Homo sapiens: one gene and its partners. The protein of the gene in region 3 purifies or fractionates together with the protein of the main gene of each other region. This does not show direct contact. Each region holds a gene or a part of one and is shown on either strand. Other genes may lie near its edges.

Region 1 (3,500 bases), on a different chromosome or scaffold from region 3:
CAACCAGGATTCACCACTTTCTTGGCCTCCTGTTTCTTCATGACACCAAGGGCCAGAGCCACCTCCTTCCTCTTGGCCTTTCCTTTTGGCATCTTGGGTGGCAGGAAGAGATTCTTTATAGTCATTTCTAAAGTCTAATTTATAGAGCATTTTACTCTTAAATAACTCCTGGATTATTACTGCTGTCATATTTTCTACTCTTAAAAGATTTTCTTACTACAAAATTAATAGATTACATAGAAAACTATGTATTTATTAAAATTTTAAAAGGGAGACAGAGTCTCGCTTTGTTGCCCAGACTAGTCTTGAGCTCCTGGACTCAAGTAATTCTTTGGCCTCAGCCTCTTGCATAGCTGGGATTATAGGCATGCACCACCACTCCCAGCTTCATTAGATTTTATTTTATGAACTTCAAGGAAATACTTAGAGTAGATTTGGAATTTTGATTAAGTAAAAAATTAAATGTATCTGGTACTCTCAATAGGATAATTCATTTATTTATTTATTTTTAATTAGAGACAGTGTCTCACTATGTTTTCCAGACTGGTCTCAAACTCTTGGGCTCAATGGATCCTCCCGCCTTGGCCTCCCAGAGTTCTGGGATTACAGGTGTGAGCCACTGTGCCTGGCCTGGAATTCATTTTGTACCAACTTTAGCTTGGAATTACTGGAAATGCTAATAGGAAGAAATGACTATGATTTTTTTACTCTCTAGACATGATTTACTAATATATATCAGCTGGCTGGACATGGTGGCTCATGCTTAGAATTGCAGCATTTTGGGAGGCTGAGGCAGAAGGATTGCTTGAGCTCAGGAGTTGGAGACCAGCCTGAGCAACATACTTAGAACCTATTTCTACAAAAAACTTGAAAAAAATTTCACCAGGCATATTGGTATGTGCCTGAGGTTTCAGCTACATGGGAGGAGTTCAAGGATACAGTGAAATACTACACTTTTGCCTGGATAACAGCAAAATTCTGTCTCTTAAAAAAATAAAGCTGGGCGCGGTGGCTCACCCCTGTAATCCCAGCACTTTGGGAGGCCGAGGTGGGCAGATCACCTGAGGTCAGGAGTTCGAGACCAGCCTGGCCAACGTGGTGAAACCCTGTCTCTACTAAAAATACAAAAATTAGCCAGGCATATTGGCGCACGCTTATAGTCCCAGCCACTCAGGAGGCTGAGGAAGGAGAATTGCTTGAACCCGGGAGGCAGAGGTTGCAGTGAGCCTAGATCACACCACTGCACTCCAGCCTGGGCGACAGAGCAAGACTCTGTCTCAAATAAACAAATAAATCCGGGTGCGGTGGCTCACGCCTATAATCCCAGCACTTCAGGAGGCCAAGGCGGGTGGATCACCTGAGGTTGGGAGTTCAAGACCAGCCCTGCCAACATGGAGAAACCCCGTCTCTACTAAAAATACAAAATTAGCTGGGCGTAGTGGCGCATGCCTGTAATCCCAGCTACTTGGGAGGCTGAGGCAGGAGAATCACTTGAACCCAGGAGGCGGAGGTTGTGGTGAGCTGAGATCGAGCCATTGCACTCCAGCCTGGGCAACAAGAGTGAAACTCTGTCTCAAAAAAATAAATAAATAAAAATAAAAATTAGGTCGGGTGTGGTGATCATACATGTAATTTCAGCACTTTGGGAGGCTGAGGCAGGAGGATTACTTGAGCCCTGGAGTTCCAGACCAGCCTAGGCAACATAGGGAGACCCCCTTTCTACAAAAAATTAATAAAACTAGCCGGGTGTGGTGGCATGTGTCTGTGGTCCCAGCTACTCGGAAGGCTGAGGCAAGAGAATTGCTAAACACCCAGGTGTTTGAGGGTGCAGTGAGCTGTGATTGCACCACCACACTCCAGCCTAGACAACAGAGTGAGAGCTCATGTCTAAATAAATAACTATACAAACAAACAGCTTATTTCATGTGGACATGTATTAATGATTCCATCGTACTAGACTATGAGTTTTTAAGGATAGGGACTATGTCTCAGACAGTGTTTTTATCTTCAGTGTATAAAACCGTTCGGTATACATTAGTGTTGTGAAAATACTGAACTCGCAACTCTTCAGCTTGAACATTGCAAAACTCCTTCATTTAAACAAAATTTGACCAGGCTGGGCACGTGGGCTTATGCCTGTAATCCCAGCACTTCGGGAGGTCAAGGTGGGCAGATTGCTTGAGCCCAGGAGTTTGAGACCAGCCTGGGCAACATGGCGAAACCCCATCTGTACAAGAAATATAAAAATTAGCAGGGCATGGTGATGCACGCCTGTAGTCCCAGCTACTTGGGAGCCTGCGGTGGGAGGATTGATTGAGTCTGGGAGTTGGAGGCTGCAGTGAGGCGTAATTGTGCCACTGCATTCTACCCTGGGCGACAGAGGAGACCCCGTCTCAAAGAACAGAAAAAGAAAACTTGGCCAATGGGAAGGAGACTTTTAATAACTTTAAAAAACACTTAAATTGTTTCATAAGAATAAAATAATTTTAAGGACTGCTAGGTACATTGACTTTGGATTTTTTTTCTATTTTTGGAACAGGGCATCTATGTACTTCAGGACAACAAATTTCGCCTGCTTACTCAGATGTCTGCAGGAAAACAGTATTTAGAACATGCATCTAAGGTATTTAATGGAATAGAAGTTGGGGTTTTTGTTAATAGTAGGACTACAGGGAAAAGTACAGTGCTAATCATAACAAACTATTGAATTAAAAATATGTTTTAAGGTGTTCTTTTTTGTTTAAAGAGTTTTCTATGAAATGAGAGACATGTTACAATAACACTAAACTGTAGCTAAATAGTCATAGAGTGACCAATTAAAGAAACACTGGCCGGGCGCTATGGCTCACGCCTGTAATCCCAGCACTTTGGGAGGCCAAGGCAGGTGGATTACCTGAGGTCAAGAGTTCAAGACCAGCTTGGCCAGCATGGGGAAACCCTTTCTCTACTAAAAATATGAAAAATAGCTGGACGTTCTGGCGAGCGCCTGCAATCCCAGCTATTCGGGAGGCTGAGGCAGGAGAATCACTTGAACCCGGGAGGCAGAAGTTGCAGTGAGCTGAGATCGTGCTATCATTGCACTCCAGCCTGGGGTATAAGAGCAAAACTCCATCTCAAAAAAAAAAAAAAAGAAAAAAAAGAAACACTATAACTAAATGACAGTGAAATGTAGATGTATGGTAGATCACTTTTTTTTTTTTTTTAAGACAAGGTCTTGCTCTGTCATCTAGGCTGGAGTGTAGTGGTACAATCATGGCCTATCTTGACCTTGACCCCCCCGGGCTCAAGTGATCCTCCCACTTCAGTCACCCAAGGAGGTAGGACTGCAGGTGTGGGCCACCATGCCTGGCTAATTTTTAAAAAAATTTTTTAGAGATGGGATCCCACGATGTTGCCCAGGCTCGTCTTGAACTCCTGGGCTCAAGTGATCACCTCACCTCGGCCTCCCAGTGTGTTGGGATTACAGGTGTGAGCCACTGCATCCGGCCTGATTGCCTATT
Region 2 (3,500 bases), on a different chromosome or scaffold from region 3:
TTCACCATTCCCAGGCGGGGCGGCCACTGTTCCCACACATTCACACGCCGGGTGACCACTGTTCATACGCATTCACACGTGGGGCAGCCATCATTCCCACACATTCACACGCTGGGCGGCCACCATTCACCATTCACCATTCACACACAGTATATCCTACTATTCACACTCGGGGCATGGGGATGCGGGGTGCCTCCCGGGGACTCACCGGCGCTTCTGTCTCTGTACAGAATCAGTATATCCCACAATTCACATGCAGGGCTGGGGTGGGCACGGGCAGGGGGCCCAGGCGGGCTCCTGGGGACTCGCCGGCTGTTCTGGGCTGACAGCTCTCCCACCCCTCCTGGGTGACACCTGACCCCAGCGGCATCATCTGCCACCCCACTCCTGAGACCACATGGAGTCAGAATCAGGCCCTTGGGCAGGACCACAGCCCTGGCAGGATGCCGGGTCCCCTGTCAGCACCCAAGTCCTGGTGCATGCCTTTTGTATGGTTCCCCTCCCCGCTTGCCGACACCCCTCCACACCGCTTCTTGCCTGAGGATCTGAAGGAAATTGGCACTGAGATCCACCTATACGTGTAGGCACCCCAGGAGGAAGCAGGTGTCACCCGGCCTCCGAGGGCTGGCTGAGCCTCTGTGCCCCTCCCTCCGCAGGACAAAATCCCCATGGCCCAGCGCCGCCGCTTCACGCGGGTGGAGATGGCCCGTGTGCTCATGGAGCGGAACCAGTACAAGGAGCGGCTGATGGAGCTGCAGGAGGCTGTGCGGTGGACTGAGATGATCAGGTGGGAGTTGCGGCCACCCCAGGAGGGGCTGCGGGATCATCCCTGACGGCAGGACTGCGGCTCCCTCCTCTGCACCTCCCTGTCTTCTGGGGGGACTGAAGTGCGCTGGGTGCTTCCTGGCGGGAGCCAGAGAGTCGCAGGTAAGGGAGGCGTGAGGGCACTAGCAGGTTGCTCCCTGTGCCCTCCCCTGCAGAGCGTCCCGAGAGCACCCATCCGTCCAGGAGAAGAAGAAGTCGACCATCTGGCAGTTGTAAGCTGGGGGCCCCTGGGGGATGTGGGCAGCAGCTGCAGGGGAAGGGGCAGGGAGGTTCCCTGGTCCTCTGCCCACCCCTCACCTCCCTGTGCCTCTGGCAGCTTCAGCCGCCTCTTCAGCTCTTCCTCCAGCCCCCCTCCGGCCAAGCGCCCCTATCCCTCGGTGAACATCCACTACAAGTCACCCACCACTGCCGGCTTCAGCCAGCGCCGCAACCATGCCATGTGCCCGATCTCGGCAGGCAGCCGGCCCCTGGAATTCTTCCCTGACGAGTGAGTGTCCCGCAGCCCCCACTTGTGGCCTGCAATGGGGTTGGGGAGGCCCTGTCCTGAGGCTCCTCCCCTCCAGGCCCTGAAGCGGGACTTTGAGGGCAGCCTCCACCTTGCTGGCCACATGCCAGGGGCCGTGACCTCTCCCTGCACACTGCCTGCCCCTCCCTGCAGCGGGGAGCTGGGCTGCTTTGGCTCCACGGTATTTGGTTCAGGATGTCCCTTGGCAGAGGCTGTGCCCACCAACAGTCAGGGGGCTGTGCTGGGCTCCACGGTGGCCTCTGCAGCAAGGAGCCGTTTCAGGCGTCTGTCCAGCAGGGAGTCGCTGGTCATGCCTGTGCCCCGGCGGCACTCCAGGTCCCGGTCTGTGGAACCCTCAGTGACTGTGGCAGCAGAGCAGCCTCTGGGTCGAGCAGGGGCCAGCTGTGGCCTCCAAGCCCAGGGGCATAGCCGGTGCCAGGAAAGCCACCCTTCCCAGCTGGGCACCCAGTGCCGGGAAAGCCACCCTTCCCAGCTGGGCACCCGGTGGCCGGGAAAAGGCGAGGATGGGCCCAGGCGGGCCTCCCTGCCGTGACCTCCCCCAGGACAAGCCTGGGGCACTGTGGGGGCCGCTCACCCTGGACAGAGACATCACCCATCATTCTTCCACTCAGCGACTGCACGTCCTCCGCCCGTCGAGAGCAGAAGCGCGAGCAGTACCGCCAGGTGCGTGAGCACGTGCGTAACGACGACGGCCGTCTGCAGGCCTGCGGCTGGAGCCTGCCCGCCAAGTACAAGCAGGTGCGGGCGGGCGCTGCGGGGACCGGGCGGGGCCCCGCAGAGGCGGGGCGGGGGTAAGGGGCGGGGCGCTGTGGGGCGGGGAGAGGGCGGGGCAGTGCTAGGGGGTGGGAGAGGACGGCGGGTGGGGCGGGGCCTGGCAGGTTCCTAGTGAGCCTCCTGGGCAGGGGTCTGGAGGGTCGGAGAAGGAGCCCCGCGGCTCCCACGCCCCCACCTGCCTCCAGTCTTGAAGTGGCTGTGCCGCCAGAAGCTGGCAGCCCTACCTGTCTCAGATTTCTGGAGGGATGGGTAGGAGCCAGGGTTCGTGCCCACGGCGCCTCCCTGCTCCCTGCAGCTGAGTCCCAACGGGGGCCAGGAGGACACGCGGATGAAGAACGTGCCGGTGCCGGTGTACTGCCGCCCTCTGGTGGAGAAGGACCCCACCATGAAGGTGAGCCCGCGAGGACCCCGCTCAGGCTGGCTGGGCGAGCGGGAGGCTGGGGAGTGCCGGTGACACCCGACCTCGGCCCTGCCCTTGCAGCTGTGGTGTGCCGCGGGCGTCAACCTGAGCGGGTGGAGGCCCAATGAGGACGACGCTGGGAATGGAGTCAAGCCAGCGCCAGGCCGCGATCCCCTGACCTGCGACCGCGAAGGAGACGGCGAGCCCAAGAGCGCCCACACGTCTCCCGAGAAGAAGAAGGTGAGCATGGCCGAGGCCACCGGGCACCCTCCCTGGCTTAGTCTCAGGACAGCTCAGCTGCAGAGCATGCTGGGAGTGAGACACAGGACAGCTGGGGACAGCACCCGGAAGCAGGGCAGCGCAGGGGCTCCTAGACTGCGGGAAGCAGTGTCTTCCCTCACCAGGACTGAGCCGCCTTCTGGGTTTTCAGTTTTCACCCCCCAGGTGGCCTGGAGTGGGCCTGCACTGGGCTGCAGGGGTCAGGCAGGCAGCAGGCACAGAGGAGCCCAGGAGCGGCAGAGCTTGCCTCCCAGTGGTGGGAGGCTTAGTTTTATGCCCAGCTTGGGCCTCTTGGAGCTCAGGGGCCTCTTCTGTGGAGGCGAAACCGTGTCTGTGAGTGCTTTAGAGTGCAGTCCTGAGTCCGCATTGTTCTGGTCCTGGGGGAGGACAGCCATGTCCCCTCAAGCTGTAGTCAAGGCTGGATCCTGACAGATTCTGGGAGCCCCATGGCCCTGTGCTGCCACCGGGTAGCCTCAAGCTCGGGCTCTGACCTTGATCCCGTGCCCTGAAACAGGCCAAGGAGCTCCCTGAAATGGACGCCACCTCCAGCCGGGTGTGGATCCTGACCAGCACCCTGACCACCAGCAAGGTGGTGATCATCGACGCCAACCAGCCGGGCACGGTGGTGGACCAGTTCACCGTCTGCAACGCGCACGTGCTGTGCATCTCCAGCATCCCCGGTGAGCAGCTGGAGTG
Region 3 (3,500 bases):
GGTCTGAGGAAATGATATATTTATTATAGTAGTATTTGTTGATTACAGGGAGATAAGTTAAATCTAAACTGGGATGACGTGCATAGCACATCCCCCAAAGCAGCAAGTAGAAGAAAATTTTATGTGTATTTATATGAAATTTAAAATTTCTAAATAAAGCTACTTAAAATATAGCTAAACTTTATCTCTTTTAAGATTTATACCTAGATGCTAGTCTGCTGTGCTGAGTGATTTGCCCATACATGGGAAATATGATTTGTTTGGGCCTCTGATTTTATTGGGCTGGACAAGCTCCAATTTGAGTCACTATCTGCATTTTGAAAGATACCTGCTCTGTGATTTTTATTTGAGGTCTTCAGTATGTTACCTTAGAGCCACCATCTTTTTGGAAGGGCTCTGTGGCCTGCCTCCTGGCCTTTGGGGAGCCCCACTGTCCTCTGGTCCAGGCAGCTCGGGCAAGTGTAGGTGGAGGAGGAGGGGAGGGGAGGATGCAAAGCGTGGGTTTCCCAGTCCTCCTCACATTCCTACAGATTGTAAAAAGCAGCATCCCAATGTTGAAACAATCCTGATTGTAATTTTTTTTTAACCACGAGGATTCTTACTTTTAAAAATTCTATTGATTTTCAGTATTATCCCTGTATTTCTCCATATCTTTGGTAATTTTGTCATCGGGTTGACAGTTGTTACAGAAGACAGCTTGAACACAAAGCTGGCAGCCACTCCCTACTCTCCACCATTTCATGTTTGTTGTCCTACTATTAAGGCAGGAAAGGGCTACTACCTAATTACAAATCTTCCTATAAACACATCATAAATAATATTAAAACGTTACCAAGGATTTGGGGCTTTTTGAGGAAAAAACAATTGACTAGAACATCTAATTCAAACTACTGAGCATGCTGGAAGAATGTGTGATGGGGCTGGGCTGGAATGCAATGGCACTGTCTCAGCTCACAGCAACCTCCGCCTCCCAGGTTCAAGCAGTTCTCCTGCCTCAACCTCTCCGGTAGCTGGGAGTGTGCCACCATGCCTAGTAGAGACAGGGTTTCACCATAACTTCTACTTATCACTGAGATTTCAATTTTCTAAATTATGCAACTGCAAGAGCCAGTGTCCACCATGTGTTCTCTAAAATAATTATTGCTTTTTTCTAGGTTGAAATCAAGGAAGCAGGTGGTACTACTACAAGTAATAATCCGGAAGAAGCAACTTTGCAGAATCTTCTTGCTCAGGAATCCTGTTGCAAGTTCCCATCGTCCCAGGAACTAGAGGATGCCTCCTGCTGTTCTCTTAAGAAAGATTCCAACCCAATGGTAATTATGCTAAAGAAGATGTGTAGGACTAACATTATACTAAATGCTGGACCCCATCATTACTAAGTCGACTGATCATTTCACTCGTTTTTCATTTCACGTATGTATTGTATCAGGATTTTTGGTTGTCTCATTAGCAAAACAGGGACATGAGCCTTTCACATCTCACCTCTAAGATTCTCATTTCTACTCCATCTTAGCAAATTGAACAAAGATGAGGACATTGCTGTATTCATTAAGGAGAGCAAGCACAAATCACATCAGTTAGTGCAGTGCTGGGGTCAGGGACTGCAGCTGAGCCTCATGGTTTGGCATATTGGTGTGGGGCACGGTCCTGTGGCTTCAGGGCAGAGCCTGCTTCCTTCGTGTCCCAATCTCTCATGATAACAGGTAACGCTTGTATAGGGTACGTAATCAGTCACAGCTGTGGTTTATGTCATATTTTTGCACCTTTATTTAATCCTCCTAACAACTCTGTAGGATAGGCATTCTTTTTATCCCCACTTTATGGGTAAGAAACAGAGATGTTACATCATCTACATTGGTCTTCATAATTAAGTGGTGCATCTGGGACTCCAGATCTCACGTGGCAAGGACTAGGAATGGGGAGAGTGTCGCCCACAGCATTCCCTTAGCAAAGCACCCAGAGTCCAAGAACCGATCATTGCCTTTCCCCCAGCAATTCTTTATTCCTAGAAATGAGGCCCTTGCTGTAAGGCATAGACGTTAACAAGCAAATACTTGAAAATGAGCCTGTCATGAGTTTGGTTTAGCTGTGGTGTACACTAACATTAGCCTCTCCATCGGTGGTTCTATTTGGGGCTGTGGGTTCTGATAGCAGTTTTTCTAGGACCCTAAAAGCAGGTCAGCAGGATGAGAACTCTCCGACTCCCCAAGACTGCAGAGTGATGTTAGCACATTTCCCCAGAGGGCAGAGCCAAGGCTCCCATGTGGATAGGGCCCAGGAGTGTGCAGTAGAGGCAGGTCTGCAGAGTTCACTCTGAGCCTTTCCTGTGTGTGTGTGTGTGTGTGTGTGTAGCTATAACTTTATCCTCCAAATACAAATACAACTCCAATTGAACATGAATGCTGGCCTCTCATCAGATGTCAGGATGATGTGGAATATTGATCCAATGACCATAGTAGGTCCAATGTGTATTACTTTGATAACATTGGTCCTTTATGGTTCTTTGGGTTCTCTTATCTAGATTATAAGCAACTTAAGTGTATAAAGCACAGCTGCTCTGTGTAGTTGTGGTTCTGCCAGCAGAATTGGAAGCTGTGTCCAGGCAGAAGCCACAGCATCTCTCGCCTTTCTATCCCCACATGCCACAGCCTGAAGCAGGGCTGGGCACACAGTTCCCTCAGTGCTTTTGCTTGACTGATGGGATGGACTGGCAGACCCACCCGGCTTGCGACCATTTATTTATGGTCAGTATCCAAGGGGGGTCTGACAGTGCTGCTCAGGCCCAAGCAGATCAGTGTGGCTTCTTAGAACTTTATAGTTCTTGGACTAACCTTTCTAAGCTGTACTTGTAGGAAATAAAATAGATGTGTTTTTAAAACCCCATGTGTTAAATAATGACATGTGTGTGGCAGGAAAGGACAGTTGGAGTAAAATTAGAGAGGATTTTAAGTGCGTGCCCAGGGACTCAGGGACATGCCGCCAGGGCCTCAGTGCCCACTGGGGCTGAATGGGCTGGGGCTTAGCGGAGCAGCACCCTCTTCTGCTCATGTCAATGGTGGAGTGAGGACAGGACAAAGGAAGCTCTGGGGCATGGCTACCTGATCCCCAACTAAATCAGACACCTGTGGAGAAAGCCAGGCACAGGAACTTTTTTCTGTTCACACACTGGACGCATCTCAGGAAACATTTCTGGGTTTTTCTTTTTTTTTTTTTTTTTTTTGCCCTTTGGTGTCTCCAAAGAGCATGTTAGTGTAGAGTAAGAAATCGAAAACAGATCTATAGTTTTCTATCTTCCATTAAAATGTAACTTCTGGATTAAAGCTATTTTCTCAGATTTAAGTTTATTTAGGTTCATTATTACTGGAATTATGTTTCAAAAATGAAACCTGATTGTTCTTTTTCATTTTAGGTGATATGCCAATTGAAAGGGGGCACACAAATGCTATGTATAGACAATTCTAGAACAAGAGAACTAAAAGCACTCCATTTGGTTCCTCAGT
Region 4 (3,500 bases), on a different chromosome or scaffold from region 3:
ACTACTTCTAGTCATAGTGTGGAATAAGCAGAGAAGCATTAAATTAAAGTCTTCTGATGAAAAATAGCATTCAAGCAGGGTTTTTTTTTTCTTATAAGGCTTCTTGTATTATAGGATGACGAAATGCTAAACATACCTGAAAAGTGAAGTAATTTGGTGCCAGTCTGGAGGCTGGAGGACCCAGGGCCCTCCTAATAGCTTAGTTAAATGGTCATTTGCAATTTGGTCCTGAGTTATAAAAATATTTTGATGACAAGAAAGAATTTCCAGTATTAAACAAATTAAAGTTAACTTACACAACGTCTCCTCCCATATTAAAGTGAGTTTTCAATTTGAGTAGTGTATTGAGAGTAAAGTGACCGCTAATAGAGCTTAAAAGTCTGTCTTTAAATTTGTCTTTTCTTTTATATTGGTATGTTGAGAAGTTGGCTGCTTTGAGATTGTCAAATTTACATTTTTTTACTTTATGGGTTACAGAAGTGAGAAATGTTATGACTCAGAAATTAATTCTGTTTTTATCCGTAGTAAGCCTTTGCATTCTCTTTTCGATATGCAACTGTGGCATTTTCTGCATAGGCATCAATTTTGGTAGGAGAACAGTTTGGGGATGAAGATAGTATGAAATCATTTAAATTTTTCATTGAGGGTAAGTATATTATATCAACCTCTGAGAATCTAGCTTTTGCATTGAATACCTTAAGCTTTTGTATGAATTTTCAAGCAGCTGTGGAAGGAATGTGAAAGCAATAAATTATTGCTTATGGCACAAACATAGAGGTTAATTTTGAAATGTCTTTTAATTGCCTATAATTTTGCCTTCACATCAGAATGGCAGCCTTATAACTGAAAAGGAAGCATTTAATTTCTTTGCCTTTAATTTCCTGTCCAGTTTTACCCCCACCAAACTTCTTTTTTTACTGGTCACTAGAGAGTTTGAAGTGTTCAAAAATTCTGTGATATAAATAGCAGTAATAGTCTTCCAGGGCAGAGGTAGGAAGAGGTTGAGGTTTGTGCGTGCACGTGTGTGTGTGTGTGTGTGTGTTGTCACTTATCTCTTACACTTTCAGTTGTTCTCAAGCCTGTGGTCTCAGGACTTCTTTGTACTTATTTGTACTCTTAAAAATTAGTGGGGGCCGGGCTTGGTGGCTCACACCTGTAATCCCAGCACTTTGAGAGGCCGAGGCGGGTGGATCGCTTGAGGCCAGGAGTTCGAGACCAGCCTGGGCAACATGGTGAAACTCCGTCTCTACTAAAAATAAAAAAATGAGCTGGGCGTGGTGGTGGGCTCCTGTAATCCCAGCTACTCAGGAGGCTGAGGCAGGAGAATCGCTTGAACCCCGGAGCAGAGGTTGCAGAGATCATGCCACTGTACTCCAGCCTGGGTGCAGAGTGAGACTGTCTCAAAAAATAAATAAACAAATAAAAATTAATTCTATTACATGGTAACCTAAATAACATTTTTTTATGAAAAATAACTTTTCTAAAACAGTTAAGAACTTGGTGAAAAGAGTGGCATTGTTTTAAATTTTTGCATATCTCTTTAATATCTGGCTTAATAAAAGCCAATGGGCTTCTCATCAGCTTCTGCATTCAGTCTGTTGCAATATCACATACCATGTGTAAACCTCTAGAAAACAGAATGAAAGTGAAAAAGACAAATAACTATTCTTTATTTATGTATTTATTTTGAGAAGGAGTCTTGCTCTGTCGCCCTGGCTGGAGGTGGCGCAATCTTGGCTCACTGCAACCTCTGCCTCCTGGGTTCAAGCAATTCTCGTGCCTCACCCTCCTGAGTAGCTGGAATCAGACGCACATGCCATCACCCCTGGCTAAGTTTTGTATTTTTTAGTAGAGATAGGGTTTCACCATATTGACCAGGCTGGTTTTGAACTCCTGAGCTCAAGTGATCAGCCCACCTCTACCTCCCAAGGTGCTAGGATCACGGATGTGAGCCACTGTGCCCGGCTGACCAATAACTTTAAAAAAATTATTTGGATAATAATTTTGACATTGGGAAGCCCCTTTAGTGGGGACTGGGATCTTTTAGGACAACTGGATTCACTTGTCCCCAGATCATGCTTTGAGAATCCCTATACTAATCATTCTTAGGCACAAAAATGTGAGGCTTTCTTTTATTTAGTCAGTACCAAGTTTATGAAACAAGACACGTTCTTCAGTATTTCTTTCCTGGTAGTATAAGTATGCCTTGTCATTTGGTCTAATTGGTTTCCCTCTTGAAAAAAAAAAAACCTACTATTTGAAATTCTGAAGGCCATGTATAAAGTGTTGATAAACCTATATATGAAAAGTAAGGATACAGAATTTTTGTACATTGAACATTTTGTCAGTAAATGTTTTTCCTCAAAGCCTCTTAAATTTTTCCTCCAGCACTCATTTAAAGAGTTCTTATTTAAGGTTTTTGTGTTTTACAATGATTCGTTTTTTTCTTTTGGGAGAGTGGGGCTACGCACTTCTTGTTGAGCACGCTACTGCTGCCGCGGCTGTCTCTGCCATTGCAAAGTAGTTCTTATAATAGTTTTCTTCCTTAAATTGATATAATTCTGTACTTAGATTTCTTTTTAGAGACAGGGCCTTGTTCTGTTGCCCAGACTGGAATGCAGTGGCTTCATCGTGGTTCACTGCAGCCTCGACATCCTCACCGCAAGCGATTTTCCTGCCTCAGCCTCCCAAGTAGCTGGGGCCACAGGAGCACGCCACCAAGCTCTGCTATTTAAAAAAATTTTTTTGTAGGGAAGAGGTCTGGCCACATTGCCCAGGCTGGTCTTGAACTGGATCAAGTGATCCTCGTGCCTTGCCTCCCAAAATGTTGGGATTACAGGCATGAGGCCGCTGTAACCAGTTAAAGAATTATGTACACAATTTTTTTTTTTTTTTTTTTTTTTTTTTGGGACATGGTCTCACTCTGTTGCCCAGGCTGAAGTTCAGTGGTGGATTATAGCTCATTGCAGCCTCGGCCTCCCGGGCTCAGTTTATCCTCTGACCTCAGCCTCCTGAGTAGCTGGGACTACAGTCACACACCACCACGTCTGACTAATTTTTATGTTTTTAGTAGAGATGGGGTTTTGCCACGTTGCCCATGCTGGCCTCGAACTCCCGAGCTCAAGCGATATGCCCATCTCGGCCTCCCAAAGTGGTGGGATTATAGACGTGAGCCACTGCGCCTGACTCTGATCTGTTATAAATCTGCATTATGATAAACCCTAGGGAGGCATGGGGTTGGTAGAGAGGGGAGACTGAGGGTTCTCACTTAGGTTAATTCATTTATTCACCACCCTAACTTGATAATAAGATGATGATGATTATTAGTAATGTATGGATGGAAACCAAGATAGGAAGTTAACAAAATTTCTGTAGGTCACACAGTAAGCACTCTGATTTCAGAGGTTTTGCTCTTTCCGACCACACTATTTTGTATTTTTTGCAAATAGAATCTAATTTTTTTTTTTTTTTTTTTGAGACAGGCTCTTAGTTTGTTGCCC

What was found.
Region 1: the proteins of TESMIN (region 3) and TRAPPC6B purify together in Homo sapiens (affinity purification with mass spectrometry; one large-scale study listed by BioGRID and IntAct). This does not show direct contact.
Region 2: the proteins of TESMIN (region 3) and MAPK8IP3 purify together in Homo sapiens (affinity purification with mass spectrometry; one large-scale study listed by BioGRID and IntAct). This does not show direct contact.
Region 4: the proteins of TESMIN (region 3) and KLHL15 purify together in Homo sapiens (affinity purification with mass spectrometry; one large-scale study listed by BioGRID and IntAct). This does not show direct contact.

Annotation. Positions count from the first base shown.
Region 1 is NC_000014.9:39,153,334-39,156,833, reverse strand, and holds part of TRAPPC6B (trafficking protein particle complex subunit 6B), read left to right. Parts: intron 1-2,539; coding exon 2,540-2,623; intron 2,624-3,500. UniProt on the Homo sapiens protein: Component of a transport protein particle (TRAPP) complex that may function in specific stages of inter-organelle traffic.
Region 2 is NC_000016.10:1,761,695-1,765,194, forward strand, and holds part of MAPK8IP3 (C-Jun-amino-terminal kinase-interacting protein 3), read left to right. Parts: intron 1-656; coding exon 657-787; intron 788-980; coding exon 981-1,037; intron 1,038-1,141; coding exon 1,142-1,312; intron 1,313-1,962; coding exon 1,963-2,089; intron 2,090-2,420; coding exon 2,421-2,516; intron 2,517-2,606; coding exon 2,607-2,765; intron 2,766-3,318; coding exon 3,319-3,484; intron 3,485-3,500.
Region 3 is NC_000011.10:68,745,021-68,748,520, reverse strand, and holds part of TESMIN (tesmin), read left to right. Parts: intron 1-1,154; coding exon 1,155-1,313; intron 1,314-3,409; coding exon 3,410-3,500.
Region 4 is NC_000023.11:24,017,187-24,020,686, reverse strand, and holds part of KLHL15 (kelch-like protein 15), read left to right. Parts: intron 1-3,500. UniProt on the Homo sapiens protein: Substrate-specific adapter for CUL3 E3 ubiquitin-protein ligase complex.